Regions from separate parts of the Homo sapiens genome. Here regions 1 and 3 are each linked to region 2. Evidence: fine-mapped expression QTL. A gene starts in region 2. Each other region holds a variant in brackets. All regions are shown on one strand. Distances are between the middles of the regions.

Region 1 (10,493 bases), 51 kb after region 2:
TCAGCAAAATTTTTATAAATGATTATTAATAAGCTGTATGCGGTTTGCTGGTAAATATTAAGGTGTATTATGATAAATTACTAACTTAAAAATGACAACTCTCTAATTCTGTCACTGACAAAATAGTAAATCAGAAGTATTTGTCTTCTATTCTTGGCTTCTGGCTAGAGGTCATTAATTATTTACCTACATTAAGAAATAAGAATAAAATTATAAGAATAATAGAAATATAGGTATAATAATTTTTAAGCATATAAAGATCTTTTTCTAAATATGCATTTTATAATTTTACTGAAAAAATAATATTGCTATTTTGTGGCTTTTTTTCCAGATACTTTGAGAAAATTCTTACAGAAGGCATATGAATCCAAAATTGATTATGACAAGGTAATTTTTCATTGGTGTATTTATTATTAAAAATACGAAGTATGAGAAAAATTTTGGCTGACTTGAAAGTAAATCTTTAAATAACCAGTTATTCAATCTGCAATTTTAGTAATCTTTTTTGACTAAGAACTTTCATGGAATATTGAACCACCTTACAAATCCCATTTGAACCATAGCAGAAAGTTCAAAAGCGGCATTTGAAGAAAACCTTTCAAGTTGTATGTTACTTAAAAATTAAAAACTAAGGCCGGGTGTGGTGGCTCACGCCTGTAATCCCAGCACTTTGGTAGGCTGAGGCGGGCAGATCACCAGGTCAGGAGTCTGAGACCAGCCTGGCCAATATGGTGAAACTCCATCCCTACTAAAAATACAAAAATTAGCCGGGCGTGGTGGCACTCGCCTGTAGTCCCAAGTATTCGGGAGGCTGAGGCAGGAGAATCGCTTGAACCCAGGAGGCAGAGGTTGCAGTGAGCCGAGATGGTGCCATTGTACTCCAGCCTGGGTGACAGAGTGAGACTCCATCTCAAAATAAATAAACAAATAAATAAATAAAAACTAAAATTTCTTCAAAAAGAAATATTACGCTACTTTTCTTTTAGCTGAGGGATGAGAACTCCCTCATTAAGTAGAATTGTTTGAAAATTCCTAGAGATGGTGACTGTGTACTCTGTTATAAAACATCGTTTGTTAAAAAGTAGCTTTGCATTTGTATAAGGTTTATGAAGCTCCTGCTGTGTGAGGACATGGCTAGAAATGAAGGAAGGTGGAGATAAGGATGATAGCCTTTGGTCTCAAGAGGCTAGAAGACAGATAGCAGGGACCTTATCTAGTTAATGTAACAAGGATCATACAAGGGCAGAGCCGGTGGGATGGGTGGGCGCTCTTCTCACATTCCAGGCTTCAGAACATGTGAGCAAAGAGGTCAAGGTATGAAAGAAGCAGGCCCCTGGCCAGAGGGAGAGAAAAAAAGGTAAGTTGGGGCCTGATCCTGGGAGGGCCTTGAACGCCTCTCTTGAGTGAATCCATAGTATTTTCAGAAAGTATCAAGGCTCCTTGCATTTTTCTGCTTATTACCCAAGTTGCTGCCAATGCACTCCTCTGCGACTGCCTACCTAAACAGGAGAATGGTCTTTCGATTTTGGTGTGTTATGACTGTAGGTTGCCCATGAAGCAAACAGACAAAAGTGTGTAGCACTGAATGTAAGGTAATAAAAATTAGTTAAATGTGTTGGCCAGGTTCTCAGTCCTTCTCGGTAAGTAAAGCACTTTGTTCCTTCCTTTCCTGGTTTGAAGGCGGTTATCGGGCTACCAGTAAGCAGATGTATAGGTGGACGTTTTTTACTGGCCTGCACAACAAATCTGAATGCTAGTGTTTCCGGCATGGGAGAAGGCAGTTCCCTTTTGCCCAGTGAATCGTTACCTCAGATACGGTAGTTACAAATGGCCTCATCATATTCTTAACTTGCAAGAAAATTATACTCAAGAGAAAAGTAAATGCAGAAGAGGAAAGCCTTATCTAGAGGCTGTTTACATTCAGCAAGGGAAGACTGTGTGGAAGATGAACTGAGCTGTTCCCAGGGCTCACAGCCTTCCCCAGCACCGTGGAAAGCATTTTCATTCCTCAGTGCCACAGGCTTCATTTATATCTCCCAATGTGATTGTCACGTCGGCCTGTATCTCTGGGGGGAAGAAAATGACAGTTGCTTTTATATTTATATTCAAAATTAGCATAACATGCTTAGCCAGCCCGAATGCCAACCAAGGAATGAGAGTAGGGGCAGTGCTTCAGTGGGATCCGGGACTTGGAGAACGAGGTCCTGAGACCCTTAGGTGGCCTTGAGGAACCTGTGAGTCTGAGCTGGAGCTGGGCTGCCACCGTCCCTGGCAGGGTCTTTGTGCTTGACTTGGTATTAGATTTGGCACTCCCATAACCTTGGTTTATACCCCTGGCTCCTGCTCTCTTTCCTTGCCTTTGCAAATGAATAAAAACTCTGGGTGGGGGTGCAGTGGAGAGAAGATGCAGAACTGAGCCCACATGAATGAGCTGATTCCTACTCTAGATGTGGAACTGGACCATGCTTTCTACCATTATCCAAAGAAAGAGGTTAATTAAACAAAGGCACCAAAGGATCCAGGCCACATCTAGAGGAGGGCTTTCTGACTAGATTTAGTCTGATAAAGGCTGAGTGTGTTGGGTTGGTTCCCCCTGAAGCAGACCCTACACCAATGACTCCAGGGCAAGTCGTTTATTTGGGAGGCTCAGGGAACACAGATTCCTGGTCTTACCCATATCTTCTGACTCATGTGCTGTAGCAGAGGAGCCCAGGAGTCAATGTTTTTCTTTAACACACACTGTGAGGTGCTTCTTTGTGTCTGGTGAGCTTGGGAGCTTGTGCCCTGGTTGGTAACAAGCCTGCGTGCCCCTTCCCCAAGAAAGGGAGACCGGGATCATTTAAAATGCCCTGTGTGACCCCAGAGGCAGGTATATCTGAACTGCCCCCCAGTCCCAGTATTTTGGATGCCTCATTTAAAAGTGATTCCCATCACAAATGGTGTTCCCTCAGAGCTGTGAAGATCTGCCAGCTGAGGCAATAGTTTCTACACTTTTAGATTTCCTGGACCAGAATATTTCAAAAAAGTGATCTAGAAAATGACATAGAGCCACCTAATTTTATTTTGCCACGAAAGGACATTTAAAATCAAACATTGAGATGTTTGGAATAAAAATGGTGGGAATCCGTTGATCGCTTTAAGCATGGGAATAACACCATCAGATTTTTATTTTAGAAAAGGGCACTTGGGAAGATGCTGCCGTTGGTTCTGGAGTTCTCAGATCTGATTCTCTATTTTATGAAGATCACATGGTTAGTGTGTTAAGCATTTGTAACTTCCCCTCTAATTCTCCTTTGCGTAACCGATTAGCATACGGATTAAGAACCTTTTGGGAAATCCAAATGTAAATGCAAATGTAAATTTCAGAACTCAGAGCAACTTAAAACACTGTTTCTTGAATTCACACTCAAGTTTTATATTCCTTTCTCATGTTTATCCTTCTATCACCCAATTTCCTCCTTGTGGGATATGAATGTTCTTGGTTATGGTTGATCACTCATAACTTTTTCTGTCTGTTTTCTTGATGCATGCTGCCTCTGCCAAAATTCCTCACCTGCGTTGACTTCTACAGCCAGAAACTGTAATCTTAGGTCTAAAGGTAAAGTCCTTGTCTGCTATTTCAAGTTGCTCTTGGAAAGCCTTTCTGTTCTTCACTGTCATCCTCACTGTGAAGATTTTTAAATGATCCGTTTCATTTCTGTTTTTACCATCACTTTTAACCTTCTCTTTGAAGAAAGATATCTCTGTAATATTTACATGTTGATCTTCAACACAATCAACAAAGCACTGGAAGATCTTGGTGTATCAAAAAACAGTTTAAGTAGTGACAGGCCTTCGTCTAGTCGGCCTAGAAGTGAACTCTTGAAATGCCGTATCTTGTTCCTGATACTGCCTGATATTTAGTCAGTAACATTAGAAAGGCTGTGTTATCAAATGTACAATTTGTATTTAAAGCTAAAATTAGTGCATTTAAAACATTTCAATATATCTTCTCTCCTGGGTTTTGGTTCAGTGTCTCCTGGAATTCAGATAGAATTTACATTTCTTTAAAATAGTAAACAATTTAGAATATTTGCTGAGAAATGATGGAAAAATACGTAAGTAAGAGTTTGGAATGTCTGGGCTGGTTTCTTAACTGACAAGTGGTATTGGTCCTCGAGGAAGGGTTAAGTCCCCTAATAATGCCTCTTCGTGGACATGGGATGGGGGTTAGCTTAAGCGTGAGCACATACTTGATGAACCCAGCAAGATTCAGCCACTCTTTTTTTTAAGCAATTTAATCTTAATATGGAAGTAGATAATATTCAAGTGCCAGATGCACCAGATTTACTAGTCTTGAGCATTTGCTCATAGAGTTAACTACCATTTATTGAATATCTACTGTGTGCTGGGCACTTGGCTAGTTGTTTTCACATTCAGTCATTTAGTTATTTGTCCCTCACAATATGTTTATGAAGTTAATGCTAATGTGACACCATCCACTTTAGGGACCTGGAAGCCCCCTGCTGGGATGTAAAGCAGGTCTCTCCTCCAAGACATCACATTTGCTCCCAGGAACAAGACTCGTGTTTTATTTTCCTTTGCTCAGCTTGGCTTCAGAATTCGCAGCTGTCTAGATTGTCCATTTAGTTGCAAACTGCCAACTTGCAATTTTCTGCCATTCTTTAGAAATATAAGCAGCTACATGCATGAATTGGAATGACATCAAGTTTCATCATCTAGTTGCATTAATTTTCGTTTATCCCGGAATAAAGTCAGCAGTGATTATGAAAATATGTTTAGGTCACATGATTGTATCTAGAAATTGTGCTGTTCCTAGGAACTCAGGAACCGTCTGAGACACGGACTGCCAAGGTCGGTCCTTCACTGTGGATCTGGCTCCTGGGCATGGCATGAGAGGCACCTTTAGTAAGTGTCTACTCAGTGCTTGGTCCTTTGTCACATTATTTCTAATCATGCGTTATCTCTAATTTTCACAATGACTTGACAAGGTACGTATTATTATTTCCAGTGTATCAGAGGAGGAACCTTGTGACTGGCCTGTGTTTAACGTGCCTGACTTAGAGTCTGAGCCTTTTTTCTAAATTAAGATACATTCCAGATTCTTGAGTAATTGTTTGCCAGCCAATCCAAAGTGCTTTGAATCTTTAACTTCTATTT[T/G]TGCAGTGTGCAAAGCGCCTTATATGTAGATTGTTATGCAAGTACTCCTGCCAAGATTTATTGATCCATTTAAAAACAAACAAAATACCTTTGGGGTTAAAATTAAACCATTTGCAGCTCAAACTAGCATTTAGACATCTTCCTAGGGGTTGAAAGACATCTTCCAGTAACCACTTGGCCATGTATTTAATTACTCAATTCTCTGCTTCCTCTGTTTCAAAAAGGAGTTTCAAAATGGAAAAAAATACATACATATATATATATATATATGTACACATTCAGATTCAACTAATGATGGCAGATAGGTTAAAAAAATGAAACATGGCCAGGTGCGGTGGCTTACACCTGTAATCCCAGCACTTTGGGAGGCTGAGGCAGGTAGATTGCTTGAGGCCAGGAGTTCAAGACCAGCCTGGACAACATGGTGAAACCCTGTCTCTACTAAAAATACAGTACTCGGGAGGCTGAGGCCCAAGAATCGCTTGAACCCAGGAGGCAGAGGTTGCAGTGAGCCGAAATCGCGCCACTGCGCTCCAGCCTGGGCAACAGAGCGAGACCCTGTCTCAAAAAAAAAAAAAAAAAAAAAGAACTTTGTACACCATGGAATGTTCTACTTATTATTTTGTGCTACAATATGTGCTGTTTCTTTTGTTTGAATTGCAGATTGTCTACTATGAAGCAGGGATTATTCTATGCTGTGTCCTGGGGCTGCTGTTTATTATTCTGATGCCTCTGGTGGGGTATTTCTTTTGTATGTGTCGTTGCTGTAACAAATGTGGTGGAGAAATGCACCAGCGACAGAAGGAAAATGGGCCCTTCCTGAGGAAATGCTTTGCAATCTCCCTGTTGGTGATTTGTATAATAATAAGGCAAGTACAATATTGGACAACAACTGATTGTGTTTTAGGCTGATGAAGAGTGTCTCACATTTTTATGGTTAAACCATGAGTTTAAAACTAAACAAAATAGCAACAATGAAAAAAAAACCCACCAAACAGAAAAGAGAGAGCACAAGCGCTTGTCTAGAGTGATTCGAAAGGATCTCATTATCATCAGACATTAGCGTTGTAATGAAGCTGCCCCAGCTGAGCTGATGAGCCAGCCCTTTGGTATTTTTTTCCTCTTGAAGGTATCCTGAGAAATCTTGGACTGCAGAAAGGACTTACCTCCCAGCACAGCAGACTCCTCTTAATTAGCTATTTGCAGGCAGGCAGCATGCAGAAAAGAGAGATGGATCTGCAAGTTGATTTGCTAGTTGAGTCCAAAGGAATCTTGATGGACTGATGCAGTCCCTGAATTTGGAAATTTGAAAATATTGTAGAATGCAATTGACTTTCTAATAATAAACTCATTTTTCTTTTATGTGCTGTTAATCCGCTACCCTCCCTTAAGTCTGGAACACACTTCACGATTTAGGGTATTTCTGCTGCAGTGTCTGCTGCTTTCAAAAGTTTTCCAGTTGACTGGCAGATCAGAAATACATTGCTTTTAAGATGACGTTTTTTCGAGTCCAAATTAGATTGCTCATCTGAAGATGAGTGCGCCACAGCAGTGTTCCCTTGTTATGTTGCTTGGTTATTGTTCCACATTTCCTCATTCATTCCGCCACTGTTTCATGCAGCAGCAGAAATCAATGTGCCTATGACATGAAGGCACAGCAAGGGTTGGCCAACAGCATTCTCTTTGTTGTTTCTCCAAACACCACACGTGCTCAGTAGCCGTAAGATTTTTTTCAAGTTTTACTAAGGAAGTGATATTCAGGAATTTTAACAGAAAACAGTAAGTCCTGTGAGTTGGAGTTCTAGCTGCAAACCCAAGAAGGAAAGCCTTTAAGTGTGGCCACCAGCAGGGGTCTGATAAGATGTGTATGGCTTAGGGTGACCACTCATTGGAATGCAGTGTACCCATTGAAGAGGACTGGGCAGCTCTGGATTTGTTGATACCAGTCACCATGACAGATGAAGTGAAAAAGCAGGTTGCAGACCATGTGTAGAACATGGTAACTATGTTAAAAAAAAAAAAGATCAGGAAGGAGACACAAGCACTGGGTCATATTTTTATAGAGCAGATGGGATGTGAAAGGGTTGACAAGAAACTGGCAACAGTGGTTGCCTCTGGAAAGGAAATTGAGGGTTGTGGAGGGGAAGGAAGGAAACTCATTTCTTGCTGTAGCTGGGCTTTTTGTCTCTTTTGATTATGTACCAGGCTCGGGTATTACCTATTGAATTAACTTAACTGAAACTTGAACAGTGACAAAAAAAATCTTCACAACAGACAAAGGCCAATGCATTACCACTTACTCCAGGGCAGTGACTATTTAAGCAAAGACATACTTTTGCTCATAATAGTGGAATAATCGACCTTAACTATATATGTGTGTAAACAAGATCCAAGTGAATGTGTTAGCTGACTTCATGCATTGTTGGTTAGCCTGAGAGTTACTTGTTTTGTCTCCATGACATTGGGGTGTGGGCATCTCTGCCTGTCAATCTCTCTCTCCCTCTCTCTCTCTCTTTTCTTCCCTTTTCTGTCTCTCCTTGCCTCTCTGTATTTTTCTGTCACTGTCTGTCTCTTTCTCTGTGTCTCCAAAAATCATTTGATCCTTGCTATTTTTTTCACATTTGATTTTGAGAGGCAGTTTGGGATCAGGTCAGTAGTGGTCATTCCAAATGTCCCTGTCTCTCTCTGCTTTGTATTTGATATACTCTAAGGAATGCACAGACTCCTAGTTATAGGGGTAGTTACCTCTTTTTCAGCTACCAGAAGAATCTCGGTTACAGCCCTGAAACCTGTCAAACCCACCAGGGATCCCTGGTGTGTTTCCTGTAAGCCTGAAACTTACACGCCACATTTGTCTAGACACTTGCACAGCCATGTTTACCCGCTCCATACACCCTGGACCTCAAAGATGAGACTCGGATGTGAAAGCATCATCTGAAAATATTGCCCTTAGGGCTTCTAGTTAGAATGATTACTTATTTAACAAGTTAATAATTTTCACTTGATGTCAATACATATAGTATAATTTCAGGAAAATTCTTTATTGAATGTAGTTATTTATTTACCTGAATAAGTGTTTACATGTGTAATAATCGGTTTCCAATATATTGGGTTTCTTTGTTTTTTTGAGACAGAATCTCGCTGTGTCACCCAGGTTGGAGTGCAGTGGCGCTATCACAGCTCACTCCAACCTCCGCCTCCCGGGTTCAAGTCATTCTTGTGCCTCAGCCTTCCTAGTAGCTGGGATTACAAGCATGCGCCACCAGGCCCGGCAGATTTTTGTATTTTTAGTAGAGACGGGGTTTCACCATGTTGGCCAGGCTGGTCTCAAACTCCTGGCCTCAAATGATCTGCCCTCCTCGACCTCCCAAAGTGCTAGGATTACAGGTGTGAGCCACCGTGCCTAGCCACTACAATGGGTTTCTTTTTCAAAATTGAACTTTTATTTGCATTACATATAGTTATGTGTTATGCATGTTATAGTTCACTCTCAGCTGATTGAGTTATTTACATTATGTTGAAAATGCCAAAATATATCAACAATAAAGCTACAAAGTAAAAAATAAACTTGGCTTCCATTTATATATAAAATGAAAGCTACCGTTTTGTTAATTCTTGAGAACTCAGACCTATCAAATCAATATATGTTTTTTCTAAGTATATTTTAATTTAGAAAATTCTTTTTAAAAATGCATGCTGTGATTCTATACCCTCCTACACATTCAGTTAAAACAATTTTTTTCCCCACCCAAGTAAAACATTAATGTGAAAATTGTAATTTTAGATTTCAATATAATTAAACCAAAATTGATCAACTGAGATTGTGACAAAACTAAAACTAATTTGATTTCATATAGCACATTGAATTTATGTATAAATTATAAATAGGCTTAAATAAGAGTAGTGTGTGAATTTTTTTTTCTCACTTTAAATTCTGATGAGAATTTAAGCTTCTTTGCCTTGAACTTTTTGATTTACGGTAGCTATTTTAATGGCTTCCTTTTGAAACCCCCACTGGTTTGCAAATACCTTAAACATCATGAGTTGCATAATACCTACATATTGTTTGCAAGTAATCCAAGCTAGGCAGGAGGATTAAAGACCTGGGGAAAGTTAAGATTTCTCTATTATGAGTAGTTAGACAGGAGAAGAAAGAATGTCAACAAAATCAGAAGATTAGATAAAAATAAGAAGGACAAGAATGTCAACAAAATTGGAAGGCAGAAAGGGAAAGAAAGGAAGTGGAGGGAAAGATAGGAGAGTGGACTCTCTCTTGTTTAATGCAGGGCCTCTAGCTGACATTGACTTCAGCGGAGATGGGACACTATTGAGAAATAATCTTTGCATGTGATTTTTAAAAAATTCTTTCAGAAACCCAGAGCAGTCCACCTGCCTTTTATTGGACTCAATTTCATTTTGTGGCTCAAAATATTACAATTAAATGCAGTTGGTTTTCAAGTTAGTTTTGAGCATCCTTTTTTATTTTAAAAAATGTAAATCTTTTCTTTAGGGGGTGAAGGGAAGACATAGGTGTTAAGGAGAAAGATGCCCTAGCAGATGTGCAATCTACGTGGGCATGTTCTTTCTCTGAGGGTTCCCAGAGGCAGCTGTGGAATGTGAGAATTCCGTAGACACTGACATATGTTTATGCAGTCTGTTTGACCATCAGCACAAGATCGAATTTCCACCCCTCACTGTAGACTGTTAAGCAGATGTGTCTTACTCCAGAAAAAGCCAACTTTCTTCTCCTTTCTTTCTTTTTGCTTGTCACCGCTGCATTTCTCATAAAGGTTATGGAAGGAAAAAAAAAAACCATGACTTGACTTCCTTTGTATGTTTCTAAGTTTCTGAGTATGATAAGCCAGTCTTGCTAATAATTCCCATGGTGAATTGAATTCCAGTCATTTTCAGGAAGCTGGCTATTTTCAAAGTTCATTTTATACTAGGACGTGATTGCCAATTCCTGAATGGGAGGCTACAAGGTTGTGGAAAAAAGATTGAGCTAGATGTAGCAGTCCTGAAAATCATGAAACTTTCTTCATGTGAATGAGGTCTGGTTACTTACAGTTTAAATGTAATTTTTCTGTTTTTTAATAAGAGAGCTGTTATAGACTGAAAGCATTTGTTTGGCTTTCTTTGGCTAATTTTATTAAATCAGTAGAAATTGGTAAGAGCAATACAGTTACAAGTTTTAAAGTAAAGGTTTAAAAGTAAGGTTTAGCCTTACTCTGTAAAAAGCTTGTAAGTGTATATGTGAGAAAATTGTTTTTTCCATAATAAAATATGGAAGATGTAAGGCCATAAAAATAAAAATTCCTATCTTCTGCTAAAAA
Region 2 (10,493 bases):
GCCCATGTTGGCAGCTGATGGAGCCTGAATGAATCTCCTGGCTCTCAGTCCAGTTCTCTTTCTAGAACATCATGCTATTTCATGATTAGATTTCATCTGGGCAGGAAAAATGAGCAGTAATTTCAGAAAGGGACATCTAAGCTTTTGCATCTAATGACTCTGAGTGTGTGTGTCGGAATAAACATCTCACCCTCTAGCCTTGCATGTAACAAATGACATAGGCATTCAGTTGAGCTAAATTGCTGGATTGTAGAATGAGAGTTCCAAGTGGAATTGAATGGAACAAATCCTTAGGTCTTGTCACTGCCTGCAAAAGGCTGCCCAGACTAGGTCATAATATTGTGTTCTATGTTTATTATTAATTCACTCACTTATTGAACAACCACAATGGTCCAGGTGGAGATGTTGGTATATGGTATGGAAATGGGTGAAAACAGTTGAAGCATTTGGTGCCCTACCGTAAGGCAGATAGCCACCCATTTCAATCCAATGTGGCAGTGGCCTGAAAAGGTTTTATGTTATCTTCTGGTGCATTGGTGATCATGGGCCAGATCTGAGTTCAAATTTAGTGCTTGACTTACTACCTTGGTGACCTCAGGTTACTGAACCTATTTTAGCCTTATCTTTATGATAGAGATAATATGATCTCAAACTGCTGTTGTTGCTAAGGTTACATAAAATAATTCATTTAAAGCACTGGGCCCAGCGCCTCATTCATAGTAAATGCTCGTTAAGTGTGGGTGTTACTCTCACTACTTCTGTTTTTTTTTTAATTTAAAATTTTTGTGAATACAGAGTAGGTGCATATATTTATGGGTTATGTGAGATATTTTGGTACAGGCATGCAATGTGTAATAAGGCATAAGGGTAAATGGGGTATCTGTCCCCAAAATCATTCTTGTTATTGATTTCTAGTTTTATTCCACTGTAGTCAGGGAAGATGCTTGATGCTATTTCAGGTTTTTAAAAAATGTCTTAAGACTTGATTTGACCTAACATATGGTTTATCCTTGAGAATGATCCATGTGTTGCAGAAAAGAATGTCTATTCTGCAGGCATCGGATGAAATGTTCTGTAAATATCTATGAGGCTCATTCTACAGTGCAGATTAAGTCTGATGTTTCTTTGTTGATTTTCTGTCTAGAATATCTGTCCAAAGCTGAAAGTGGGATGTTGAAGTCTCCAGCTGTTATTGTATTGAGGTCTAGCAGTCTCTTTAGCTCTAATAATATTTGCCTTATATGTCTAGATGCTCAAGGGTTTGGTGCATATACATTTACAATTGTTAGATCCTCTTACTGAATTGAGCCTTTTCTCATTATATGATGACCTTTGTCTCTTCTGATAGTTTTTGTTTTGAAGTCTGTTTTGTCTGATATAAATATAGCTACTCCGGCTCTTTTTTTGGTTTCCATTGGCTTGGAATATCTTTTTATGTTCCTTATTTTCAGTCTATTTGTGTCATTATAGGTCACATATGTTTATTGTAGGCAATAGACCAATGGGTCTTATTTTTTAATCCATTCGCCCACTCTATGTCTTTTGATTGCAGAGTTTAGTCCATTTAATTCAATATTATTATTGATAAGTAAGGACTTACTCCTGCTCTTTATTTGCTTTTTGGTTGTTTTGGGGTCTTCTCTTCCTTCTTTCATTTCTCCCTGTCTGCCTTTTAGCAAAGGTAATTTTCTCTGGTGGTATGATTTAATAGCTTGCTTTTTATTTTTGTGTATTCATTGTGTTTCTTTGACTTGAAGTTCTCGTGAGCCTTGCAAATACTATCTTCTTATAACCCACTATTTTATGTTAGTAATTACTTAACACTGATTACATAAACAAAGAAAACTAATAAGAGCTCTACACCTTAACTTCCTCCCCTTGCTTCTAAACTCTTTGTTGTTTCTCCTTATATTTTATTGTGCTGTCTATGTCTTGACAAGTTGTCGTAGTTATTATTTTTGATTGGTTCATCATTTAGTCTTTCTACTTAAGATAAGAGTAGTTTACACACCACAGTTACAGTGTTATAACATTCGGTGTTTTTCTGTGTACTTACGATTACCAGGGAGTTTTATATCTTCAGATGATTTCTTATTGCTTGTTAACATCCTTTTCTTTCAGATTGAATAACTCCTTGTAGCATTTCTTGTAGGACAGGTCTGGTGTTGATGAAATCCCTCTGCTTTTGTTTGTCTGAGAAAGTCTTTATTTCTCCTTCATGTTTGAAGAATATTTTTGCTGTATATATTATTCTAGGGTAAAAGTTTTTTCCCTCCAGCAGCTTAAGTATGTCACGCCACTCTCTCCTGGGCTGTCAGGTTTCCACTGAATAGTCTGCTGCCAGATGTATTGCAGCTCCATTGTTTGTTAATTCTTTCTTTTCTTTTGCTGCTTTTAGGATCCTTTATCCTAGACCTCTGGGAATTTGATTATTGCATGCCTTGGAGTAGTCATCTTTGGGTTTATCTGCTAGGTGTTCTATACAATTCTTGTATTTGGATATTGATACTTTTCTATAGGTTTGAGTGGTTCTCTGATATTATCCCTTTGAATAATCTTTCTACCCCATCTCTTTCTCGACCTTGTCTTTAAGGCCAGTAACTCTTAGATTTGCTTTTTTAGGTAATTTTCTAGATCTTGTAGGCATGCTTCATTATTTTTTATTCTTTTTTCTTTGTCTTCTCTGACTGTATTTTCTAATAGCCTGTCTTTAAAAGTGCACTATTTCTTCTCCTTAATCAATTCTGCTATTGAAAGACTCTGATGCATTCTTCAGTATGTCAGTTGCATTTTTAAACTTGAGAATTTCTGCTTGATTCTTTAAAATTATTTCAATATCTCTATTAAATTTATCTGATAGAATTCTGAATTCTTTTTCTGTGTTATCTTAATTTTCTCTGAGTTTCTTCAAGATATTGATTTTGAATTCTCTGTCTGAAACATCACATATCTCTATTTCTCCAGGGTTGTTCCCTGGGGACTTATTTAGTTTGTTTGGTGAGGTCATGTTTTCCTGGGTGGTCTGGAAGCTTTTGGATATTCATTGGTGTCTGGGCATTGAAGACCACCCCAAGAGCCTGCTTAGTACTCTACCTCCCTGTGGCTGAGCTGGTACCTAAGGGGAAGGAAAACATCCTCTTTACTTTTCCTTCTGCTTTTGTCAAGCAGAAGGAGTCTCTCACATTAGCCACCACAGTTGGGAATATACTGGGTCTCACCTGAAACCAGCAGATCTCAGAGTCACACCCAAGAACCACAGTGTACTACCTGAGTATTGCTTCTGGCTATTGAGAACCCAAGGGCTCTTTAGCCAACAGGTGATGGGTCCTGCCCAGACTGTTTCTTTCCCTTCAAGGCAGCAGTTTCCCTTCTGGCCCAGGATGTGTCTAGAAATGTTATCCACAAGTTAGGACCTGGGATGGGGGTCTGATGACTCAGACTGATGCCCTGTCCTACTGTGGCTAAACTGATATTCAAGATAACAAAGTCCTCTTTACTCTTCCCCCTCTTCTCTTCAAGCAGAAGGAATGGGTCTCTTCGTGCTGTTTTTAATCACTCCAGCCACTAGCATTGGGACTGATGCAGACACTAAGGATCCAAATGATTATTTTTGTTTTGTTTTTTTAACTGCATTGGGATTAGGCAACAGAAGGGTCTAATGTGGCTGAGAGTTTTTGAGAGAGGAGCATTTTTAGGAGGGTAGCTGCATTCCAAGTAGAGAGCTCTGCTGGGGTAAAAGAGGCATGAGTGCTAGAAAAGGGCATGCAGTGATGAAGAGCCACTAACAGCACTACCTGGGGTTGGGGTAGGGGTGTCACAAGCACTCCCTTAGCTCCCCTGTCTGGTGTCTCAGTAAGTCGCATGCCCTCCAAGTCTACTGGCTCTGAGCTCAGCATTTGGGCTTGCTTAGGAGTTGCTGTCCTTGTGGCCTAGGCTGCCTTTAAGGTTATTTGGGGCCCCAGAGCACTTTACTGAAACTCAAGTTTTCACCACTGGTATGGGCTATTTCCTCTGAGGGAAATTGGCTGAGTTCAGCCTAGTTTTGCTTTCTGCTATGACAGAGCAGTACTGAGTTCAATTCAAAGTCTCCCAATCACTGCACTCTCCCTTTCCCAAGCCACAAGGCTGCTGCTGCTGGGGGATGGAGGACTGGCGGCATTGGCAAATCAAAACTGTCTTTCCTGGCTTCTTCAGTGCCTCTTTCAGTAATATGAAATTAAAACCAGGTATTGTGGTTACTCACCTGATTTTTGGTTCTTATAAAGGTGCTTTTTGTGTGTGTAGATAGCAGTTAAATTGTGTTCCTAGCCGGGGTGGGGGGTGGGTGGTCAAACCTTCTATTTGACCATCTTGCTTCACCCCTTTCTACTGATACTATTGTTGTTGATATTATTAGGAATGAAAATGAGCCCTGTGAGTTATAATTGTCTTCATTTTGCAGACCAGGAAACTGAGGCTCAGAGAAATATTAAGCAGCCAAAGTCACAGCGATTAAAAGAGGCGGGACCAAACTTTGACGGAGATCAGGACCCACTCCTTTGAGAAATCACCTCTTTTGCTAGCTCCAGCCTAAAAGTGCTATCTAGGAGAAGGTTTATGGGACCCCAGCAGATGTTCAACCAGAAACTTCTGACCTGCAGGGGCTGCAGAGGGGAAATCTGCCCTGATTAGAAGAGATTTGTTTTCCACCCATATTAGTTTGATCTCACATTGCTATAAAGAACTACCTGAGACTGGGTTTCAGAGGCTGTACCGTAGGCATGGCCAGAGAGGCTTCAGGAAACTTACAATTATGGTGGAAGAAGGGAAAGCAAGCACATCTTCACATGGCAGAAGGAGAGACAGAGCGAGCAAAGGGGAAGTGCCACACACTTTTAAATCATCAGATATCCTGAGAACTCACTCACTATCATGAGAACAGCAAGGGAGAAATCCGCCCTCATAATCCAATCACCTCCCACTAGGTCCCTCTCCCAGTGAATTATAATTCAATATGAGATTTGGATGGGGACACAGAGCCAAACCATCTAACCTTGCCATGTCCTACTGTACTTTTTGGAAGTTTTCTGAACTAACATTTCTTGTCTAGAAATATACACACTCAAGATCAATCTAACTATTAAAAACAAAAAATGCTTATTTTCCAGTACCTGTTTTATGTTAGATTCTGGGGTAAAAAGAAAAAGGTACTGACTTAATGTTCCTGTCTATCATTCATTTGTAGCTTGTGCATCCATCCTTTCATCTGTCTATCCATATCACAAACATGTATTAAACACCTGCTGTATGCTAGACACCATCCTGAAGGTGCATTTCTTCCCTAAGTCTTTTTTTTGCCTGCCGGAGAGTACAGTATTCTCAATTCAAGATAAGAAGTGGTGAATAAGAGTGAAGTGCAAATTGGTGAGGACACTTAGACACCGAGTGATTACTTCTGACAGGTTTCCACCACTCAGCTAAGTAGCAAGGTGAAGACTCCGAGGTTGAGTTGTAACTCACAGAGCGGGAAGACCAATAGGCAGTGAGAAAAGAAGTTGCAGTGGCTTCACGTTATAGCAGATGCCTGTGTGTACACATGGGAGCGAATATGGCTTTATGCTGTTTTTCAACCGCTTCAGCCACTAGCATTGGTACTGCTGCACACTAAGGATCCAAATGATTGTTTTTTTGTTTTTTGTTTTGTTTTGTTTTGTTTTGTTTTGTTTTAAATTGCATTGGGATTAGGCAACAGAAGGGTCTAATGCGGCCGGGATGAGACAGGAGAGTTTTTAGGAGGGTAGCTGCATTCTAAGTAAGGGACTCTGCGGGGGGAAAAGAGGCGCAAGCGTTGCAAGAAGGGAGTGCAGGGGGTTGAGCAGGCACCTCTACAGGAAATGGATGCTGTCCAGGTGCTGGTGGGCGCCCCAGGGCTACGTGGCGAAGCAGCTCAGCCGGTCCAATCAGAGTGCGTCCAGGGCTCGGGTTTCGCGATCTTTAAGTGACTGAGGCAGATCCCCACGCGGCACCTGGCCATGCTCTCAGCTCTCCCGCCGCGGTGAGTATGTTTAAGGAATCCTTTCCATTACGGCGGCCCCATACCTAGGTCCCCGTCCGGGACAGAGGAAGCCGCAACGGGTCCCCCCGGGCACCCGGGCCTTTCTCCTGCCTCCCGCCACGTCCGAGGGTCCGGCCGCAGCGCCGCCTGAGCCCCTCCGCGGCCGGCAGTGGGAGGCGGGCTCTCCGAAAGCCGTCGCGGTGGTCCCAGAAGCCGGGTCATAAATAATTCACGAGCCAGGGTCTGGCGAGCTAAGGGAAGGGCGGCGGCAGCGGTGACTAGGGCGGGAGCAGGAGCGGGAGCCGGGTGCACGGTGAGTAGCTGGGTCCTCATCCCGGAGCGAGAGAGGCATCTGCTGACCAGGCGCGGGGCTGAGCGCACTCCTTCCACTGTACTGGGGGTGTACAGTGAGGAGTGGACGGGTTCGCTCTGCGCCCCCCTTACCCTAGCCATCTGCGCCGCCTCCCTGGCCCCTCAGCAGGTGGTGCGGGCCCGGACAGCGGCTGGGGGCCAGAGGAACTGCGGGGAGAGCGTGGTGGTGCCGGTGCCCGTCCAACCCAAACTTTTTAGTCTGAGTGGTGGCCCGCGACGCCCCGCTTGGGTCTTCTTTCCATCCACTGGGGATGGGGGCGGGGGTGGGGGTAGCCGGCGGCCGTGGTTCCGGAGCGGGAGTCGGAGGTGAGTGTGCGAACTGGACCGGGGCCCCAGAGACTTCGGACTCGCTCTCGGGGAGAACGGTGACCGAGGTGAGACTCGCCAGGGTCTTGGGAACGAGTCTGCGGTAAAGGAAACTCTAGGGATGGCCCCGGGGACGTGAGGCGCTGAGCTTCCCTGGCTGAGTGCGGAAATGGGCCAACACTGTGCAGCCGACCACAGCGGGAGTAGGGATATGGGGGTACAAAGCGAGGCCATCTCCCCGCGTCCGTGGGAGAAAGCATGCACCCCTGGCTTGAAGCACCTTCCCAGCCTCTCGCTCCACGGCCCTTCTGCTTGCATGCGCGGGGACCCGCGGCTATCGCTAGATGGAGAACTGGGGTGCTCAAGGCGCACCCTGCCAGAACACGCCGACCGGACAACAAAGAGGAGCGTGGACAGACCAGGAGCTTCACGGCTGTAGAAAGTCAGAGGCTCGGGATCAGTTTCCCCGAAAGCCCGTGTCTGGAGGGGCAGGGAGTCGGATCGGAGGGAGGAACTAGCTCCAGAACCCCTTCTCTCTGGCAAGATCGCCCCCGATCGGTGCCCAACAGGGGCCGCGGCGGGGAACTGGCGCCGACGCGCTCAGAGCAGCCAAGTTACTCCGGCAACCCCCTCCCCTGCGCGGCTGCGAATTCCTGGAGTCTCTTGGCTTCCCGCGCCCGCCCCGCCGCTCATTCTTTTGTGTCCCGCAGCTCGCGAGAGGCTTCCGCCCAGAAGGGAGCTAGGCCTGGAGGGGGCTTGGCCTGGAGGTGGTTTGGAGGTAAAGGGCGGGGAAGCCGGCGCCCCAGGCTTCATTCTGCAACAGGTTGCTCCTGGAGCCCGCTAAGGCGACTGACCTTTCTGGAGAAAGGTTTGCTGGAGTTCCTGAGGGCGGCAGCTGTTCTTTGTTAAGAAAGCAAGTGCACGATCGTAGTTCTTGAGTGCCCCCCGAGACTCATGCGACACGAACAACCGCTGCGATATGTTGGGTTGAATCATAAGAAATTGTCGGTTTTTTGGATGGAAGATGTGAATATCGTCAACCTCATATGATTCAACTTGTGTGATGTTACTCATTTTTCTTTTCTCACCGTCCTTTCTGTCCCGGTTATCCTAGGAGCCCCGGTGGAGTTGAGCTCAGAGTATTGATGCTAGCAGAAGCAGACAGACCCCAGATAGCCTTCCAGCTGCGTGCCAGGTGCTTTACCTATTAGATCGCTAGCCTGCGAACCCTATGCGAAATCCTCCTTTGACAGAGGAGCAGAAGAAGGGTTGGAGAATTCAAACAACTGTCATCTTGGCAGAGTTAGTAAGGGGGACCAGAGCCCCCTTACTGTTGCTGTTGTCTGTCTATTCAGCAGTGCCCTTTAGTTTATTCTTGTTTTTTTTTTCATGTGTTCCATAATTTTTTTCTAAACTTCCTTCTGATTTCTAAACTTTTCTAAACTTCTTTCTGATTTCTAAACTTCCTTCTGATTTTTATACGAGACAGTTTCTTTGTGTTTTAGTACAATGAGGTGAACAAATGCATCAGAGGACAAGCTGAAAACTTTAAACCAAGTTGGTACTGTTTAAAATATAAAGGAAATAGGTTTTTCAGGGAGCAAAGAGCTATTTCTGAGATTTGTTAAGGGTCAAGATACTTTGTTAAAACAGTGGAAGCTGAGTCGGGGGTAATTTTTATCAGATAAAGGACTTCTTGGATTCTGTAAGTTGCCTGTTCACTCTGATGGTAGTTTCTTTTGCTCTGCAGAAGCTCTTTAGTTTAATTAGATCCCATTTGTCAATTTTGGCTTTTGTTGCCATTGCTTTTGGTGTTTTAGACATGAAGTCCTTGCCCATGCCTATGTCCTGAATGGTATTGCCTAGGTTTTCTTCTAGGGTTTTTATGGTTTTAGGTCTAACATTTAAGTTTTTAATCCATCTTGAATTAATTTTTGTATAAGGTGTAAGGAAGGGATCCAGTTTCAGCTTTCTACATATGGCTAGCCAGGTTTCCCAGCACCGTTTGTTGGGAATTGAACAATGAAAACACTTGGACACAGGAAGGGGAACATCACACACCGGGGCCTGTTGTCAGGTGGCGGGAGTGGGGAGGGATAGCATTAGGACATATACCTAATGTAAATGACGAGTTAATAGGTGCAGCACACCGACATGGCACATGTATACACATGTAACAAACATGCACATTGTGCACATGTACCCTAGAACTTAAAGTATAATAAAAAAATATATATACATATACATATATATATGTATATGTATATATATAAAAGGACTTCTTGAAAGGATGGTCCCTGGGTGGCTTAGGTAAGTGGCAGCAAGGCTGGCTAGCCAGGCTTAGGAATCTAGGACATGCCACAGGACCCCTGATGGGTGGGTGGCTGCGGCTGCCAGAACAGGACCCTGGATGTGGCTACTGGCATTGCTGCCATCATTGCTGGAATGAATTAGATACTGTCCTGCTTCAGAGTGCGCAGGCCCAGGCCCAGAAGAAAGCTTCTGATTGGCCCAGCATGGCTCAGCTCCACCAGGACACAGTTTGGGCGCCTCAGCTGACCTCACAATGCAAGGCAGGGCTGCCTCCCACCCAGCTCACAAACGTGGTCTCAGATGTTGGGTATCCCCCATGCCCCCGCCAAAAGCACTCCAGATGACAAAAATCCACTACAAAGCTCTTCTTTAAAAAGAAAGATTCTGAGAAGTTCCATCAAAAGAAGAAAAGAAGAAATGAAGGTGATTGATCACCATATTTGCTTTTTCATTTTTAATTTTTTTTTTTGAGATGGAGTCTCTGTCACCCAGGCTGGAGTGCAGTGGCATGATCTCAGGTCACTGCAACCTCCGCCTCCCGGGTTCAAGTGATTCTCCTGCCTCAGCCTCCCGAGTAGCTGGGACTACAGGTGTGCACCACCACACCTGGCTAATTTTTTTTGTATTTTTAGTAGAGACAGGGTTTCACCATGTTAGCCAGGATGGTCTCGATCTCCTGACCTCGTGATCCGCCCGCCTCGGCCTCCCAAAATGCTGGGATTACAGGCTTGAGCCACCACGCCCGGGCCATATTTGCTTTTAAACCAGTATTGAAATGCAGTTCTCTGGACTCCAGGCTCAAAATCATGTAAGGTCGCCCAGGCTGGAGTGCAGTGGTATGATTATGGCTCACTACAGGCTCAGCTTCCTGGACTCAAGTAATCCTCCTGCTTCAGACTTCCGAGTAGCTGGGACTACAGTTGTGCACCACTACGTTTGCTAATTTAAATTTTTTTTTTTTTTTTTTTTTTTTTTGTAGAGACAGGGCCTCTCTATGTTGCCCAGGCTGGTAGCAATTCTTCATTGAGTACCAACTGTGTTCCAGGCTCTGGGGATACAGAAATAAGCCAGGGACCTGCACAGCAGCTGGGGTAGATCAATTCAAAGCAATATGAAAAGGGCATTTGGGGAGCTTTCACCTTACATGTGTTATTTTCCAATGTGTTTGGGAAGCCTGAAGTGTCCTTGGAAAGTGACATGAATTGACTAGGCGGGTACTCCAGGATCAGAGTACTCCAGGAACAGAACTGTTCTCAAACTTTGTTTGAAGGATCAGTCCCCAGGAAAGCTTGTTAAAAATGCAGATTAATGGGTTTCATCCCAGAAATTAGGTCCATTAATAGTCTGCATTTCAACTAAACACCCCATTTTATCCCGAGACAGATGCTACTCTCAGTGGCTCTCGGACCTAGTGGGGTTTAGCTGGTAAATACTCAGAGCTTCTGTTTTTGGCACAACCTATTAAACC
Region 3 (10,493 bases), 74 kb before region 2:
TGTTTGTTTGTTTTTAACCTCTGGTTTGGACTTCCCAGAGATGATGATGCTAAACCATCTGTAGCTGAAGTGACTACAGATGACAGGTGGAATGTAGTAAAGTCTTCTTGGCCCACTCCCTGATGTTCTGTATTGGAGCAAGTGTTAATGTTTCAGGACTGCCAACAGTCATGTTAGGTCTTGATTATATAGAGAGGAGCCGTAATGTAGGAGTTGTGATCTTTCTGCAGTTGGGTGATGGCATTGTTTGTGTGATACGAGCAATGTAATGTACCCTTCCATAAAGTTGAACAAACAGATGATTAGCCTCTAAGTTTTATTATAAATGATGGCTGCTTATACAACATGCTATTTGGTTATCATTTGCTTTATCGGAAAGCATGGATAATGGGCACTTTTTTCAGCACCACTGTATTGGTAAGTTTGTATTTATTAATAATTGGAGAAAAGTCTTTCTCTAATTTAATGGATCTATTTTATCACAGGCCTTTCCACAGAAGAAAACCTGTCTGCCTCCATCACCAAACAACCTATTCATCAAAAGGAAAATATCATACCATTACTTGTGACAAGCAATTCTGATCAGTTTTTGACAACTCCAGATGGTGACGAGAAGGACATAACGCAGGACAATTCTGAATTAAAACACAGATCCTCAAAGAAAGATTTGTTAGAGATAGACAGGTTCACAATTTGTGGAAACCGAATTGACTGAATCTGTGGCTTCATGCGCTGAAGAAGCTGGGTCCTGGGGCAACAAGTGCTGTGTTGCCAGGACAAATAGATGCTAAACATGGCACTTAAATATTTATTTAAAAACTTAAATTATTATTGGCAAGCAAATCTTAGTATCTTTCTTCCAGTAATATGGCCTGGCTGAGGGTCAGACCACAGGACAGGAGCGACCTCCGGCCTTGACTGTCTGGGAAGCTTGATGGATTATAAAACTTCCTCCTGCCTGGCCAAGCAGCAGCATCATTTCCAGGACCCAACAAAGGCAACATCAAAATCTGTTTTGCTTTGTCAGTCTGGGCTTCCAGAATGTTGAATTTGCCTCAAGGCCTCTTCAGTATAAGGAAATACCTGGAAAACTGTGAAACTTTTACCACGACGTAATCTTTCCAGTCTCATACTATTTTCACAAACAGTTTTCAAACGTTACTTCATCTGCCAAAGCATTAAAAAAATTAAACATAAGTCAAGATAAATGTTCTTACCACCAGAATAACCCTTAAAGATGTATCTTAATTAATCAGAATAAAAGGCTACCTTAAATAAGACATGATGAATAGTAGCATTTTGTAGGGTTAAAAAAAAATGCTAAACTAGTTTATTTATTAAAAAAATAATTAATGAAGGCTATGCATTACTGGGAAAAATCCTTCATAATTTTTCAGTTTACTCTTTAAAGCAAAATGTGAGCTGTATGTCATTTAATTGGTGGATAAAACAAATTTCCTTACAAAAGGGCACTTTTTACACCAAGGAAGCAGAGCAGTGTTAACTTTAAGGTATACTTAACTGATTTTGCTTTAAAACTAATTACTTCATAAATTATTACAGCTAAAAGGATTCGATGTTGAACAGGCTGAAAAATTGTCAATGTACAAAATTCAAAACTGTCAACTTTAACTGTAAAGTAAATGCTCCAAGTGTGTTAGACAGCATCATCTTGCTTGGGCTTACCAAATGCATTAGTCTTTGTGTTTGGGTCGACAGCGAGTGTGCCTGTGCTGGGGCAGGGTGTGTGTTCTGTGGGAGGGTGTCTGTGGGGATGTGACTATCAGGGTGGGCCTGTGCTGGGGATGGGGCAGGCCTGGGTCTGGAGAGGATTTTGTGTGAAAGTAAATGGGGTGTTTGAGGCGTATGGGTGGCTGTTGGTGTGGGGAGGCATCTGTGTATGGCTGTTGGGAACAGCAACCAAAAGGTGCTTTTTGGTTTTATTTGAGATGAAGATTGTGTTTCCGCTTAATTACTAGTTTGTGGTCTATATCATAGAAGTTATTTCCCACCCCATTTTATCTTGACAACCGTGTTTGCATTTCTGTAAAACTTCTACAACTTCTGGTGTCAGAACTGTCCAGAAGATGGTACTGTTAACTGTTATTTCCTTTGATGTTTTGATTTTGAAGTTTAGCTCTCATGCAAATGTTTCAGGCGTACATACATAGGCAGAAAGCAATTTTTAGGTGATTTGTCTGTTTCTTGGATGAAATATAAAGCAAGCTTTAATGTTCTGACTTGTTCATTTGAAATACAAAAAAGTAAGTGAATTTTAATGTTTTGCATTAACTAAAGAAATCTGAAGATTAATGTTGAGGAAATTGTATGGACATGCCTTTGTGAAACCAGGAAGTATTTTAAGTTAAAAATGAAAAAGGTTTTAATTGCTTTGTGTGTGTTTTAATGGAGCCCCATTTTAGAATTATTTTTTCCATCTCCCTTTACCAACAAAAGGAACAATGCCACCGTGAATGGAATAGTTTGGGGAAAGCTTTGCCAAACACAACCCTGATTTCAGAGCAGGAACATGGTTTGGATAGATCTTCAGTTCCGCTTGAATTATTCTGTTACTGCGCTGTCATTTTCAGAAGATTTCCATTCCTTTGCAGATGCTGTTGGGAGTTCGGGATTATGTTCATTTCTTCTGTTTTAATGGCATTCAGTACTAATTTTATAAGTGCATCTTGTGTGAATCTCAATAAATTCAGTTTTGTAATCTTTTTTAAAAAGGTCACTGAATTTATTTTAATATTTACTATTGTATTTGGTAGAGTGAATTTCCCACTGTATAATAAGTATTTATTTGTAATTCACAAGTGATAGAGCTATCTTAATTTGAATTATTGCTTTGGTCTTAATGGTGGCAAAATGTTTAATTTTGTCTTTGGAAAAAATAGGCTCGGCCTTGATTATAGACCATTTAATATTTCTCAGCAAATGAAGGTATTTGCATTTTACAAGTGTTTTGAATGTCACACAAAATATTTTTCACATCTGGGAGTCAAGTTCAAGACAGTGCTTTGGTTTTAAAAAAATCTAATGAAGGCACAGGATAGGCCAGACCCTTATTAGGTTTTCCTTTAGAATAAGTGTAAAGACCAAGTGTCACTGATACGCTTGTCCAGATTTTCTTGTGGACTTTGGCCAGTATTTAGAGTTTATATTCATGTTACATAAAGTGAAAGAAACTTGCTATAATTAGGCCATCAAAATATATCCTGCCACTCCTGGTAACTCAGCAGAGGAGGAGATAAATTTACAAAATAATGTAATATCTCTACATTGTTACATGTTTTCAACTATTTTTTATCAACAAAGATTTGTTAATCACTTCCTATGTGTCAGAAACTGTTCTAAGTGGTGGGATCAGCAATGAGCAAGATAAGTCCCTGTTCGTCTGTGGAAGACTGATAGGAACAAGTCGATGAAATAATGTCTGCTGGTCACAGAGTGTCCACTGACCAAATGATCTCTCAGGCTTATTTCAGCTCTAAAATATAGTTCTTTAAAACGTTTGTGTAAGTCTGATTTTTTTCCTATTGGATTAGCTTGAAATAAGATAATTGTATAGCAATTTTACAGTGCTTCTATAAAATAGAAATAAGAAAAGACTTTCTCCCTGAAGACTGCTAGTTGTCCAGCAGAATCCATTCTCCTGTTCCATTGTGTAGAGTTGTAGCTGGGCATGTGCTGCTTGCTGGGGACTGCATTTCTCAGCCCCTCTTGCTGTTACCTGTAGCCAGCTGACTCATTCTCCCAGGGGATGTAAGTTGAAGGGTGTATTCCGCTATTGGGCCAGGACCCTTAAGACCATGGGTGAGTCCCCCTCACCTCCTCTGTCCCCTTCCCACAGGTGGAACCCAGAGAAGGTAGTGACCTTGTCCCAGTAGGTGCCCATCATGGCAGAGCCATGAGAGAGAAGGAACCTGGGTCCCTGAATGCCGCTGTGGAGCAGAGTTGCTGGTCAGCTTGGAAAATTCCGCTTGACTATACATAAGAGAGAAACTTTTGAAATGCCATTGTTTCTAAGCCACTGAACCTGGAGGTTCTGTGTTCTGTTCATGAAGTTTAGCCCACATTAGTACATTAGGAAATCTGAGAGGGACTATTTAGAGATCTTTACATAAAAGGAGCAAGGAGTTAGACCTATCTTGCTAAAACACATTCTTCTGAAAATTCTCTCTGGATACTCATTATTTATTATTTATATGGAAAAAGATAAAGATTACTCCACCCCACTTTTTCAGAGGTCAGACTCTCAGCACCCTTGGCTGTCTTGAACTGAACATTAAACTTGCCCATAAGTGGCAAAGTTCTATTTGTCCATATACTCTATCAAATAGACATTTCTTGCCCTTTATCTCAGAAAAGTGTGTATAGTAAAAGAGTAAAGTGTAAGTAGAGCTTAACAGCAAGGAGAAGTAGAAGCAAGAGGAGTTAATCAAGAGAGCAGTAAAAATATACCTGACGTCAGTGATGCCATGCCTGTGATTGCCAATAAACTGTGTTACAGGTCAATGTGATGTGTGGTATGCAGTAAGTGAGATCTAGGATGATTTAGATTGTGTTCATTACATACTATTAAGGATTGTGTTTGATACAAATTAAGGTTCGTACAATTGAGGGGAAGTTGTTCAGAAAAAAATGGCGTTCTCAGGGACCTTGAGTTATCTGAAAAGTTTGCTTATAGGGAGGAACTATTGCTTAGCAGTGCTGAGCAAACAAGGCATTGCTGTTCTAAATTTTATTAAGAGAGTAAATGTATCAGCAAGTTGGCAAAAGGCACAGTTATGCATAGTGTAGTAAAGTTGTATTTGAGGTTTTTGATATTTAATGACAAGGTAGGTATCAATACAATATGTTTTGCTTATTTATATGTTTTGTTTCTTGGGTTTTCTTGTTTGTTTTTTGTTTTTGGCTTATAAGGAAACCAAGGGAGGTCTTGAAGGCCCCTTTGGCCTCTTTTTAGAGGTATTAGCTCAGGGACTACAGAATGAATGAGCTCTTGCAGTGTGAATAATCTTCGAAGTGGATGGTTAATTTTGAAACTGCAATTATTTTCAATAAGCACATTCTCATTCCATTTTTAATATGTCAACATAAGAATGTAAATACTGGGAAGATTAGAAATCGCCATAATGTCAGGTTTAACCAGATAAGTGAAATGTATAACAAGGAAAAGGCATAAAAAGCTTGTTGGACTTACTTTCACAGATATTAATTGCACTCACTGAGCAGAGCACAGAAATGAAGGAGCTGTGCTTTCTGCCCATGGGGCTTAACTGTAATCTGACAGTGAAAAGTCCAAGATTCTTAGCAAGGCACTAAAGACTGGGGGGCTGACCCGGCAATTACAGCCCTGTGTGAT[G/A]AGTACCACCATAAACCACGCCTCTGGCTGCAGCAAAACATTCAACCACATTCACTGCTGTAGCCCTTGCACCTCGTTCCTGGCACACACAGGCAGGCAATAAACATTTATTGGATGAAGAAAACATAGGGGCCATTGCAGAAGGTGTGCACTTGGGCCGCCTTGAAACAAGTAGGAATTAGATGGATAAGAAGGGAGAGGAAGGGCAAGGCACGAATGAACAAAAGAGGAAAGAGCACAGCGGAAGCTGCAGCGCAGGTTTCCTTCACTCCCCATTAAGTGCCAGCTGTCTTGCTGGGAAGATGAGGAGGGAAGCTTCCGTCCCATCCCTGGGGAAACGAGATGGAGGATGGAGGCAGGGGCTAGATCTCAAGAGCGCTCTTAATGCCTTGCTAAGAATCTTAGACGGTTAATCCTATAGACAAAGGGTGGAGGAGCTTAAGTGGAATTTTAAGTTGTTGTAATTATCAAATGAGAAATGAAAAAAAAAACTACTTGGTAAACTCTGAAGTGCTATGAACAGATCAATGTTTTAGAAAAGTCAGGGTGGTGTCCTTGTAAAGGATTATTGTGTAATCGCTTTTGTGTTCGTGTGAAAGCAGGGCTAAGCTCATTTTCTACATTCTTCTCATTGAACCTTTATGTCTCTCTAAAGCAGACACTTACCCCATTTTATAAGTAGAAAACTGTGGCTTAGAAAGGTTAAGTAACTTGTTCAGGGTCACACAAGGAGCAAGGAGCACAGCAGAAAGTTAAACCGCCTTCCTGAACTGGAAAACTGGAGCTCTCAAGCTCTCTGCCTTCTGCTATTTACGGAGAAGGGAGAAGCCAGATAAGGAAACCCCTTGAGGGAAGTGCCTGCAGCCACTCACAGCAGAGTGCGAGGACTTCAGGGATGTAGGGTGTACTGAGCTCTGGGATATTTACCCCTCTAAGATACTCTGGAGGGCTAGCCTGCCGTGTGATGTTGCAGTCAAGACCCTTGCTCTGTGCAACACAGCAAACCTCAGTCTCCTCATCTGCAAATCAGGGTTGAGAATATCCACTTCTCAGGGTTGTGAAGAGCAAATCAGATAATGCATCTGAAACTGTTTGTGAAGGCAACACACATGTCTAAGCTATGATGACGCAGCCCACATCAGTGATCCCCACAGTGTGGTCCCTGGGCCAGTGGCATCACATCACCTGGGAACAGACCAGAAATGCAGATCCCTGGGCCCTGCCCAGATGTGCTGAATCAGAAACTTCAGGGGTGGAGCTGGACAATGTTTGTTTGTTTAGACAGAGCCTTTGTTTTTTGAGACGGAGTCTCGCTCTGTCGCCCAGGCTAGAGTGCAGTGGTGCGATCTCAGCTCACTGCAACCTCCGCCTCCCGGGTTCAAGCAATTCTCCTGCCTCAGCCTCCTGAGTAGCTGGGATTACAGGCGTGCGCCACCACGCCAGGCTAATTTTTGTATTTTTAGTAGAGATAGGGTTTCACCATGTTGGCCAGGCTGGTCTCGAACTCCTGACCTCAAGTGATCCACCCACTTCGGCCTCTCAGAGTGGTGGGCTTACAAGTGTGAGCCACTGCGCCCGGCCAGGACAATCTGTTTTAACAGGCCCCTGGGCGAGTCTCCCCACTAAAGTGTGAGAACCGTGGAAAGTCATCATCCTCTAGGATCTAGATTTCAGGGTGATGGGTCCAAAAACTCACCTCTACTTTTTCCAAAGTAAAGATTGGAGAGACTAAAACACGATTTGGGGGCCAGAAGTTCTCTAGCATATGACTACATTCTGTTTAAAATCCATGATTGCTGTCACTCACTCAAGGCCAGGCAGCTAGACAGAGGCAGAGCAGGCTAGGACCAGGGGTTTCTAGATCTTCCTGAAACCCCCGCGCTGCTTCTACCGCATCCTCAGGGCTCCACCCCATCCTCTGGCAATAGTACCTTTCAGACGAGTCCTGCAGAAATCATAGAGCACTCATGATACCAAAGCTTTAATCACCAAGAGTTGGGGAAGGGAGAAAGGATATACAATCCACTAAGTGGCGTGATTCAGCACCAAAGCACCTTGTAGGGGATTCAGTCTGTTTTCACTGAGCATCTCCACCCATCTAGGAGTTGCTGGTGCAGCCAGCAAGGCAGGCACATCCCCTCTCTTTAGAAGCTTATATTCCAGTAGAGAAAACATCATAAAAATGTGAACGGGGCATTTCAGAAGGCGACCTGTGCTACAGAGGTAACAAGGTAAGGTGATAGGGACATGATGCTTTCTTGAAACCACATGGTCAGGGAAAGCCTCTAAAGGTGACATACAAGCAGAGACCTGAACTAAGGGAATGTCATGTGGCAGAGGCCCTCAAGTTCAAAGCTACTGAATTGAGAGGGAACAGAGTGTATCCTAGGAGCAGAAAGAAGTTCATTAGGGCTGGGAAATGAGGACATGGGGGTGGGAATGGGTTGCAGCTTTAATTGGTATGGGAGTGGAAGTCCAGGTCATCCAAGCCCCAGGACCGGAGGAGTTAGGTTACTACTGGTCCAAGGACGAGATAAAGAGTTAGGATATTACTGTCTTCTGCTCTCCGAAAAACGGGTTGCAGGGCAAGTAGCATAAAATCAGAGAGGCTAGCGAAGGGCTGTTTCTGTGATATAAACCAGGCTCAGGCAGGCCTGGACTCATGCCAGGGCAGGGCCAGGAACCCCCAGCCTGGCCTGGCTCTGTCTCCACCTCAGAAGGGCAAAGCAGCAGTAGCCTCTTGCAGGAACCTTAACACTTCCTTTGGCAACACAGACGCAGGACAGAGGATTCTGAACCTAGCTTTACCCATTTGTTTCTTCAATGCTGACACCACCTAGTAGGCAAAGTCAACTTCTATCTAATTGTGTTTCTCATTGGATGATCATGGTGATGAATGGCCTCCAGTTCTGCTACTCTCTGAAATGATGCCCGGGGGAAACAAGAGGGAAGCATCTGTAAGCTCCCCACCGAGCATCTGTAAGCTCCCCACCGAGCAGCAGGAAACAGTTCCACTCTCCCAGTGAGGGAATTGTGCTGAGAACTGGAAATGTTTTTTCCAGTTGACAAGATGAAATTTTTTTGAAGTTCAGATTCTATCCAAAACACAATAGAAAATAAGATGACTTTCCCTTGCAATTATTATGGATATAAATGCACTGTTCATTTCTCTTTCAAAGATGAGTTCGAAGATGACTTAGGTCCTAGGATGATGGGATCTCAGCATTAAAGCAGCTCTGACAAAGCATCTGACCCCTATTCCAGGGCTGCTGTTGTCCTGTACTCCTGAGAAGTTATCAAATAATTTTGTCTTGAAATAAGTGCTGTAGTATTAATAATAATTTTAAAACCAATCCTTTTTTTTTTTTTTTTTTGGAGAAGTCTCACTCTGTCGCCCAGGCTGGAGTACAGTGGCGCAATCTCGGCTCACTGCAACCTCTGCCTCCCGCGTTCAAGCAATTCTCCTTCCTCAGCCTATCAAGTAGCTGGGACTACAGGCACATGCCACCACACCTGGCTAATTTTTGTGTTTTTAGTAGAGACGGGATTTCACCATGTTGGCCAGGCTTGTCTTGAACGCCTGACCTCAAGTGATCCACCTCCTCAGCATCCGAACGTGCTGGGATTACAGGCGTGAGCCACTGCACCCAGCCTAAAACCAATACTTATTAAATATCTACTACAAATCATCATACAAGACCCTTTTAATTCATTACCTTATTTAATTTGCACAATGTCCCTGAAAAGTCCTCATTTTACACATGTGGAAACTGAGGCTCGGGAGGCTCTTTTCTCAACAAAGTCACCCAGCTAGGGAGGAACAGGGCCAGGATTTCAAGCCTGGTCCTTCTGATCCCAGAGTGCCGGCCCGTAACCATCATGCAGCCTATAGGCCTCAGGACAGCCTTCCACAAGAGCTCTTGCAAAATTCTTTTTCTTAAATCATTTTCTAACAAAAGCATGCATACTTAACAGAATTTCCATTCCTCCTGCCCTCCTTTTAGTTCACATTTTCCAGACTTTCATGTGATTCTAATTCTCCATAGATTGGCTTTGCTGAGTGTTATTTTTAGCATTTGGATTATGAATAGATTGTTCTGGTTATCCTGTTTATATTTTATATTGTTGAATCACCTATTTTCTCACTAAGGAATTGTGACAGCGTGAGGTGTATTTATGTGATGCCTGGCACTTTTTTTTCTTTTGTTTTTCAGAGATGTGGTCTCACTGTCACCCAGGCTGGAGTTCTGTGGCTCAACAATAGCTCCACTGCAGCCTTGAACTCCTGGTCTCAAGGGATCCTCCCACCTCAGCCTCCCAAGTATCAGGGACTACAGGCATGTGCCACCATGTACAGATAATTCTTTTCTCTCCTTGACTTCTGATTCCACCCTGCAAGGTGGGCATAGTATGAATGGGGATATCCATGTGCCAACCAGGAAACCAAGGCCCTGGTTTTCCGAGAGTCCAGATGCAGTGCCTGGGCTGGGAAGTGGGACTTCACACCGTAGGCCAGCACAGGGCTTCCAGCACTGCTGTTCTGCCCTGAGGAGGGGACAGTGGGGAGAGTAGCCTGCTTCCTGGCTTAAGCAATGGCGATTAACACACATTTTTAGAGCTTTTATTGTTTCATTCTGTAAGTAATAAGTGGCCACTGTCCTTAGCAAACTAATGCAGGAACAGAAAACCAAATACCACATGTTCTCACTTATAAATGGGAGCTAAATGATGAGAACTCACGAACACAAAGAGGGGAACAACAGACATTGGGACCTACTTAAGGGTGGAGGGTGGGAGGAGGGAGAGGAGCAGAACAAATAACTGCTGGGCACTAGGCTTAATACCTGGGTGATGAAATAATCCGTACAAGAAAAACGCCCGTGACACTAGTTTACCTATATAACAAACCTGCACGTGTACCCCAGCATACCTATAATTTCACCATCTAATTTGGTGCATACTTCTTCAACTCCTTCTGATAATATATAATAGATATAGGTTTCTACATGTAAGTATACCTCAGTGAGACTCTACCATATATGTTGGCTTGTGACATGCTTCATTCCCTTTACATGTAGTGGGCATTTTTCCATGTCAATAATTTAAAATGTTTTCAAAGGCT

Alleles and levels. Alleles are on the strand shown, and positions count from the first base shown. SD is a standard deviation of normalised expression in the study named.
For the expression in tibial artery of the gene that starts at base 5,989 in region 2, G is the low allele of the variant in region 1 and T is the other (moderate effect, 0.74 SD a copy in GTEx).
In carriers of allele A in region 3, the expression in transverse colon of the gene that starts at base 5,989 in region 2 tends to be higher than with G alone (small effect, 0.17 SD a copy in GTEx).

Evidence for each region. PIP is the estimated chance that this variant, and not a neighbour inherited with it, causes the effect.
Region 1: its variant is fine-mapped to the expression of PROM1 in tibial artery (GTEx, PIP above 0.99).
Region 3: its variant is fine-mapped to the expression of PROM1 in transverse colon (GTEx, PIP 0.93).

What each region holds. Positions count from the first base shown.
Region 1 is chr4:16,028,840-16,039,332 of GRCh38, reverse strand. PROM1 (prominin 1) reads left to right here. Exons shown (of 28, transcript NM_006017.3): 3 at 332-387; 4 at 3,572-3,598; 5 at 5,824-6,029. Among named protein-coding and RNA genes, the nearest start is that of PROM1, 50 kb to the left of the region's middle. The variant T/G (reference allele first, on the strand shown) is at 5,161.
Region 2 is chr4:16,079,519-16,090,011 of GRCh38, reverse strand. PROM1 (prominin 1) reads left to right here and starts at 5,989. Exons shown (of 28, transcript NM_006017.3): 1 at 5,989-6,034.
Region 3 is chr4:16,153,530-16,164,022 of GRCh38, reverse strand. TAPT1 (transmembrane anterior posterior transformation 1) reads left to right here. Exons shown (of 14, transcript NM_153365.3): 14 at 486-3,518. The coding sequence ends at 715. Among named protein-coding and RNA genes, the nearest start is that of TAPT1, 68 kb to the left of the region's middle. The variant G/A (reference allele first, on the strand shown) is at 5,372.